Homo sapiens: one gene and its partner. The protein of the gene in region 2 interacts with the protein of the main gene of each other region in a pairwise test. Each region holds a gene or a part of one and is shown on either strand. Other genes may lie near its edges.

Region 1 (3,500 bases), on a different chromosome or scaffold from region 2:
GGGAAGGTTTTGCCAGGCCCTGGGTCTGGGAGGAGAGTGCAGGCTTGCTGCAAGGCGAGGAAAGGTTTCAAGAGGAGAAGCTCACGTCCCTGCTTCCTGAGTCTCAGGCAGCATCCTCCTCAGGAGACTAGAACCCAGGTCATCACAGCAACTCCACCCCTTTCTCCAATGCCCACAGCAGGGGCTGGCCTGGAAGAGGCCCGCCGTGTGTGCTGAAGCAAAGCCGCACAATTAAAGAACCTGCAACAGGTTCCCCACAGCAGAAGAGGTCTGAGGATCCCAGAGCCGTTCTTCCACAATCTGCTTCTTCAAATTTCAGTTAAGACACAGGAATTCTATTATTGCAGAGGTTTCTGCTGGCCTCTAGTCTGATGCTGATCTTTGCAGCAGCATCAACCCAGGCTGCAGTTTTCTGCAAAACCAGGGTTGTCTGGCTCCCTGGCAGATGGGGAGTGGGGGCTGGAGCAGAAGCAAAGAAACCCTTCAAAAGAAACTCCAAAGAAATTACTAATGATTATTAAGAATAAAAGGAACAGTTATTATACTAGTAACAGCACCTATATATGTTTGTGTATATACTATTATGATAGTAATAGCATGGGTGTGTTCTATGCACAGACATATAGACATAGAATAACAATATTATTAGGACAACTCCCATGTATTGAGCACTTACTATGTGCCTGAGGTTATGCTAAGGGGTTTACATTCCTTTCCTCATTTAATTATAAAGTTTAGTGTATTGACTTACACATTCATTCCACAAATATCCAATGTGCCAGGCAGGACACCAGGGAGGTGACACAGGCAACCAAAAAAAAGTCCCCACCCTTAAGGGCTAGCGGGTGGAGATGGACAAGGACGGGGGTAATTATTAATAGAACACAATGGAACAGGTCTCCCTTGAAGTGTTTGAAAAAAGTGTTGAGGGCCCAGAGAGAATCCAGCTGACAAAGTCTGAGAAGGCTTCCAGGAGGAGGCTGGCAAGAAGAGAAGGCAATGCTGGAGCTTGGCCATAGAGAATAAGCAAGAATTTGCCAGGCAAAGGAGAGAGAGCAGAGACTCTGCCGAAGCATCAAGCCCAAGGTGGGGACTGGGGGAGCAGGCAGAGGTGAGATCAGGAGGGATGAGCCCTGAGTGCAGGAGTGAGGTGGTGGGTGGCATTGGATGGCAGTGACCGGGTTCAGGGTCAGGTTTAAGAAAGCTCACTCAGGCTGCAGAGAAGGGGATGGGTTCTGGCATGGCCTCCACATGGGGATACTGGAGAGGAGGCCACTGTGACTTTGAGAGATGAGGTGTGACCTGGGCAGTGGCAGCGAGAAAGGCCTGGGTCTGATGTATGGGTCAGAGGGCAAAAATGGCCAGCACAGTGATTGACTGGACTCACTGGCTGGAATTGAGGAAGGGTGGAGGGCAACTACTAGTGGGTACAAGAGGGGAAATCTACTGAGAGGAGGGAAGGGAAATGGGGAGAAGGGTTGGGGCAGATGTACTCAGCTTTGGACATGCAAAGCACCCAGGTACAGAGGTCCAGGGGGTACTTGGTAACAAGTCCTGCCCTTGCCTATTTGGCCTCCCTGTCAACTGAACATGAAGCACTTTAGACACAGTGTGGCTTTGTACTGGGACCTGATTTTCCACATTCTTGCAGGGGCAGCTGTGAGGTGGTCCATACCGATCCTAAAACCTGCCAATCATGTTCCTGGCTGCAGCATGGGGGTGGGAGGGTGTGGTCTCCTGGACTCTTCCACGTTGGGATGATCCAGGATTTGGGATCAAGAAACTTCATTTGTGAGTCATCTGGGGGAAAAGGATCCTATCTTATGGGAACACCAGCGATAAAAATAATTGATCTGGCCAGGCATGGTGGCTCATGCCTGTAATCCCAGCACTTTGGGAGGCTGAGGCGGGTAGATCACGAGGTCAGGAGTTCAAGATCAGCCTGGCCAAGATGGTGAAACCCCATCTCTACTAAAAATACAAAAATTAGCCGGGCGTGGTGGCACGTGCCTGTAATCCCAGCTGAGGCTGCCTCGGGAGGCTGAGGCAGAGAATTGCTTAAACCCGGGAGGCGGAAGTTGCAGTGAGCCGAGATTGCACCATTGCACTCCAGCCTGGGCAACAGAGTGAGACTCCATCTCAAAAAAAAAAAAAGTCACTGATCTACCCAACTCACGACACAAATCTACAACACTGCATTTTCTTATTAACCCTCCTCACAGCAATTCTGTGAAAGTTTGATTTCTTGAGGCCTTCCATAATAGTCATCACAATAGTAGCTCACAAGTATTGGGTTCTGACCATGTGCAGGCATTGTTCTAACCATTTTAGGTATATGAATTCATTTAATCCTCAAAACATCCCTAAGAAGTAGGGATAATTTATAAACCTCATCTTATGGGGAAGGAAACAAGCTCAGAAAGGTTAAACAACTTGCCTAAAGTTATATAGGACTAGGATTTGAACCCAGGCAGCCTGGCCTCAGCCCAAATTCTTGCCCTAACTAATCCTGAGTCATATCCCTGGCTCTCTGCTTCCTTAGCAGAGGGCTCCTCCCGCTCATTCCCAGCAGGAGGGTAAAGGCTTAATCACCAGAGCCCTGGGTGTGCAGGCAGGAGGGTAGCCCATTGGGTACCTAGCTCGAGGTGCAGGACGGGCCCATTCCCAGCCAGGGCGGCATCAGGGGTGGCAGGAGGTGCCGGCGGGCTGTTGTGGAATTCCCAGCGCTTCATCTGCAGCTGCTGCAGCCAGTACAGCATCGCTTGCTTGGTGGCGGCCTGAGAAGCACAAGGATTAGTTGGCAAGGCCCTGTGCCTGAAGGGTGGCACTGGGTGCAGGAAGAGGGGAAGGTTGTGGGAGGCTTAGGAATGCTTTCTTTCCCAGGAAAAAAAAAAGGGGGTCACTGTAGGTATGTATGCTTCCTGGCCACAGAAGATCATCAGGCTCTGGTCTCCCACTCAGCGGTTCCTTAGCTGCTCTGGGCCTCAGTTTCCTCATCTGTACTCTGGTGACAATAAGTCTCATTGCATAGGACAATGATGAGGATGAAATGAGACAAGGGTATCACACAGTATCTGACACACAGTAGGTGCTCAAAATGTGCTCACTGGATAGAGGAATTTGGAGGCGCTGTGAGAGGGGGAGGTGCACTGAATTCTGATATGCGTGGGGTCCTGGTACCATCACTATCTCTGTGTGACATCTCCAAGTCTTTGCTGCCTTTTGTGGAATAGGAGTAATCCTTGCCTTGGGGATGCACTGGAATCATGGATATGAATGGAGACTGGAAAGCCACATGCACATGTGACAACATGGTGGCACCTTCCAGGTGCTCTGGCCCTCCAAACAAGTTCATGGTAAATGCTGGTCATTAGTCTCCCAGCACTGGCTGGCGGTTGGTCCAAACATCCACTTTCACATCCAATAACTCCTGGATTCTTCAGGAGGGAGGCAAGGCAGGAGTGAGCACCCCTTTCTACAGATGGAGAAACTAAACCTCT
Region 2 (3,500 bases):
TCCTTTAATATTACAATACTACTTATTTATTGGTTTGGAAACTAGGTCACCCTACATGATGTTTTGATTTTTCTCAAAGGCATCATGAGTACTCTGCTTATTCTTTCATTCTTGTATTTTTAGCCTTCTAGTTGAGTTAGGGACCATTTTATCAGAAATCATTTTAGCACTGTAATAAGAAAAGCTCTGTTAAGGGTAGATTATATACCATAATGATTTTCAGACTTCTTTTTATAAAAAAGGTATCTGGAGACTCTGAACAGGCACATGCATACTCAGGGGGAAGGGAACAAAACATGGAGGAGTCTGCCAAAGCACAAAACTTCCTTCTGGTCCTCACTGCCTTCAAATAAATACAACTATTTAAAAGAAAAAAAATATCTCACACTGTGATTTAAAAAAAAAAATCAGTATCTTCCATTTCCTGGAGAGTCTTTCCAGGAACCTGTGGCAGGGTCGGAGATCAGTCGTCTGTCTTCCGGGCTAGCCTACAGAAAGTCCAGTTGTGCTCCACTGTGTTTTCATTGGCCCGCTCACTCATGTGATGCACCCGGGTGTTGCGGATCGTGAAACCTTGTTTTGTAATGTATTCCATCAGGTGGACCCTAAGAGAAACTTCCTGGTGATAATCACAGGGTCCAAAAGTAAAGGAAACCTGGCAGTCTCTGGTGTCCATCATGTGCTTATTCCACTTGGTAAAATAATTTGAGATGCCTTCTAGTAAGGAATGGACCTTAGTGGTGATGGTTAGTTGCGTTATGATGACAGCCACTGGGTTGGAGTACTTAGAAAGCTTCCGAGTACTAGACAGCTCCACAACTTCTTCAAAAGTATCCATGGGATACAAAGGCTTAGGATCATTGAGACACTGAATCAAGGGCTCAATCTGGTAAAAATCTGCTTCTTTCCGAAGCAGATCAAATTCCTTAAAATCCAACGGTAAGGTCAATTCTGAAGTTCTTAAGAAGTTGAGGACATATCGGAAAAGAGGTCCATCTCGATCAATAAAGTAATTGCCTTGAGGGTCTCGAGCTGTGGGGAAGTCCCCCCCAAACATAGCTCCAAGCATGGAATCCGGGTAACGCGTCAATGTGGTGAGAGACGTTGTATACAAGTGTCCACCTACATTTAATGTGACTGGGTCAGTCATCTGAAATTTGTAAAGAAATGATCAGTCATCTGAAATTTTTAAATACTAACTTTGACAAATTAAGAAAGTAAGTGATACTGAGCAAAGCCCAAGATTCTTTCAGGCTATAATGTATTTAGTAATCCTCTAATGCAAAATGACTTTACTACCAGCAATAAACCCACCCAGATGAAGTGATCTAACATTTGCTTTCAATAGAAAAAAAAAGGAGAAATCCAATTTCTCTTTAAAGACTTATGCTAAGAATACAGGGCATTGACTTCCAGAGCCAAATCATTTCAGGCCCATTATCTATAGAGTTTTCAGGCCAGAATATATGTGGGAAGGGAAAAGCCACGCTAAAATACACTTATTTTTTTCTGATTTTTTTTTAAGGCTTGCATTTTTCTGAATTTAATTTAACATTAGATAGAATTAAAATGATCTGATAATATAGACATTTACTTTCAATATTTCTTTGGTTTCTCCCCCTCAAACAAAAGGAACAAACTATGAAATTTGTTTTTAAAATAAAAATTTGGGCCAGGTACAGTGGCTCATACCTGTAATCCTAGCACTTTGGGAGGCCGGGGCAGGCAGATTGCCTGAGCTCAGGAGTTCAAGACCAGCCTGGGCAACATGGCAAGACCCCATCTCTATTAAAAATACAAAAAAAAAAAAAAAAAAATTCACTGGGTGTGGTGGCCTGAGTAGTCCTAGCTACTTGGGAGGCTGAGGTATGAGAATCACTTGAACCCAGGAGGCACAGGCTGCAGTGAGCCAAGATCATGCCACTTCACTTCAGCCTGGGCGACACAGAGAGATTTTGTCTCCAAAAAAAAAAAATTATTTAAATTAAATTAAAAACTGTGCAGACCTAATCTTGGTAACTTTTTCATGGAAGTGATACTTTCAAATACTAAGTTAAAATATACAGTTTAGTCAATACAACCAAGCCAGAAAAGCATCACATACCCAAAAGCTTACAGCAGCCATAAAATTTCATAATCTGATAGTGTATTCACTTTTGTAACATTAATGCTGCAATCTGGCCTTTAATTCTGAGAAGCAAGCTTCTCTTAAAAAACATACCTTCAGTTTTAGAAATACTATTTACGAAAAAAATAGGCCAGGTGTGGTGGCTCACACCTGTAATCCCAGCACTTTGGGAGGCCAAGGAGGGTGGATCACTTGAGCCCAGGAGTTGCTGACCAGCCTGGGCAACATGACAAAACTCCATCTCTACAAAAAATACAAAATATTAGCCACACATGTTGGTGCCCACCTATCGTCTCAGCTACTCAGGAGGCTGAGGTGGGACAATCACCTGAGCTTGGAAAGTCATGAGCCGAGATCACGCCATTGCACTCCAGCCTAGGGAAAAGAGCAAGACCCTGTCTCGAAAAAAAAAAAAAAAAAGGAAGAAAGAAAAAAGAAAGGCAGACAGAGACTTCAGGTATAGGCAAGTAAAATATACCTTACACCAAAGGAATAGAAAAATAGGGAGACATATGCACACACAAAAAATGCAAGTGGGGAGAAGAGGCACTTTCTCAACCATTAATCTCCCAAACCACAACAAAATATCCTCCAAACTCACTAGATCCCTTTGTAGTCACTATTCATGAAGAAAGAGTCTTCAGAGCAACACACTTGAAAAAATAAAAAATCACGTTACCTCTCCAGTGATTATAAAAAGTATTTGGAAAATCCATTTTGAGTTTGATTCCATTAAAACACCAAACAAAGGCAGAGGATCGTTTGAGGTCAGGAGTTCGAGATCAGCCTGGCCAACATGGTGAAACCCCGTGTCTACTAAAAATACAAAAATTAGCCAGATGTGGTGGTGCACGCTGATAATCCCAGCTACTCAGGAGGCTGAGGCAGGAGAATCTCTTGAACCTAGGAGGTGGAGGTTGCAGTGAGCCAAGATCGCGCCACTGCACTCCAGCCTGGGCAAGAAGGCGAGACTCCACATAAAAAAAATTAAATAAAAATTTAAAAAACACCACACAAGACAAAAACGCCTCCAAAATACATCTAAACTAAGTAAAAGGGGGAAGAGAGGTTACACAAATTCACAATTTTCTTTTCTTATAAGATATACCTAAAAATACATAAGGATAAAAAGACACACAAAAATAATTCCCCAGCCTTCAAAATGCATCTCCAAGAAGCACTCACCATATAGCCCCAGTCTCCATTATCCATCTGCTCCAGTGATGCGTCTTCAAGAGCCCAGGTTTCAGGGAAACTTCAAGAGGAGAAAAACAGACATATGATAGCATATATAACTAGGAAAATAGAGAAGAAAGTCTTTTTCCACCCAACAGAGGAGGCCAAACACCAGAAAAACTACTCGTCCTTGCTC

What was found. Proteins that work in one complex are often made in the same cells at the same time.
Region 1: the proteins of KCTD6 (region 2) and TBC1D2 interact in binary tests that used the Homo sapiens proteins (3 or more experiments, as listed by UniProt).

What each region holds. Positions count from the first base shown.
Region 1 is NC_000009.12:98,249,150-98,252,649, forward strand, and holds part of TBC1D2 (TBC1 domain family member 2A), read right to left. Parts: intron 2,778-3,500; coding exon 2,636-2,777; intron 1-2,635. UniProt on the Homo sapiens protein: Acts as a GTPase-activating protein for RAB7A. Signal effector acting as a linker between RAC1 and RAB7A, leading to RAB7A inactivation and subsequent inhibition of cadherin degradation and reduced cell-cell adhesion.
Region 2 is NC_000003.12:58,498,596-58,502,095, reverse strand, and holds part of KCTD6 (BTB/POZ domain-containing protein KCTD6), read right to left. Parts: exon of another isoform or gene 3,384-3,500; 5' UTR 3,341-3,383; coding exon 3,314-3,340; intron 1,151-3,313; coding exon 464-1,150; 3' UTR 1-463. UniProt on the Homo sapiens protein: Probable substrate-specific adapter of a BCR (BTB-CUL3-RBX1) E3 ubiquitin-protein ligase complex mediating the ubiquitination and subsequent proteasomal degradation of target proteins.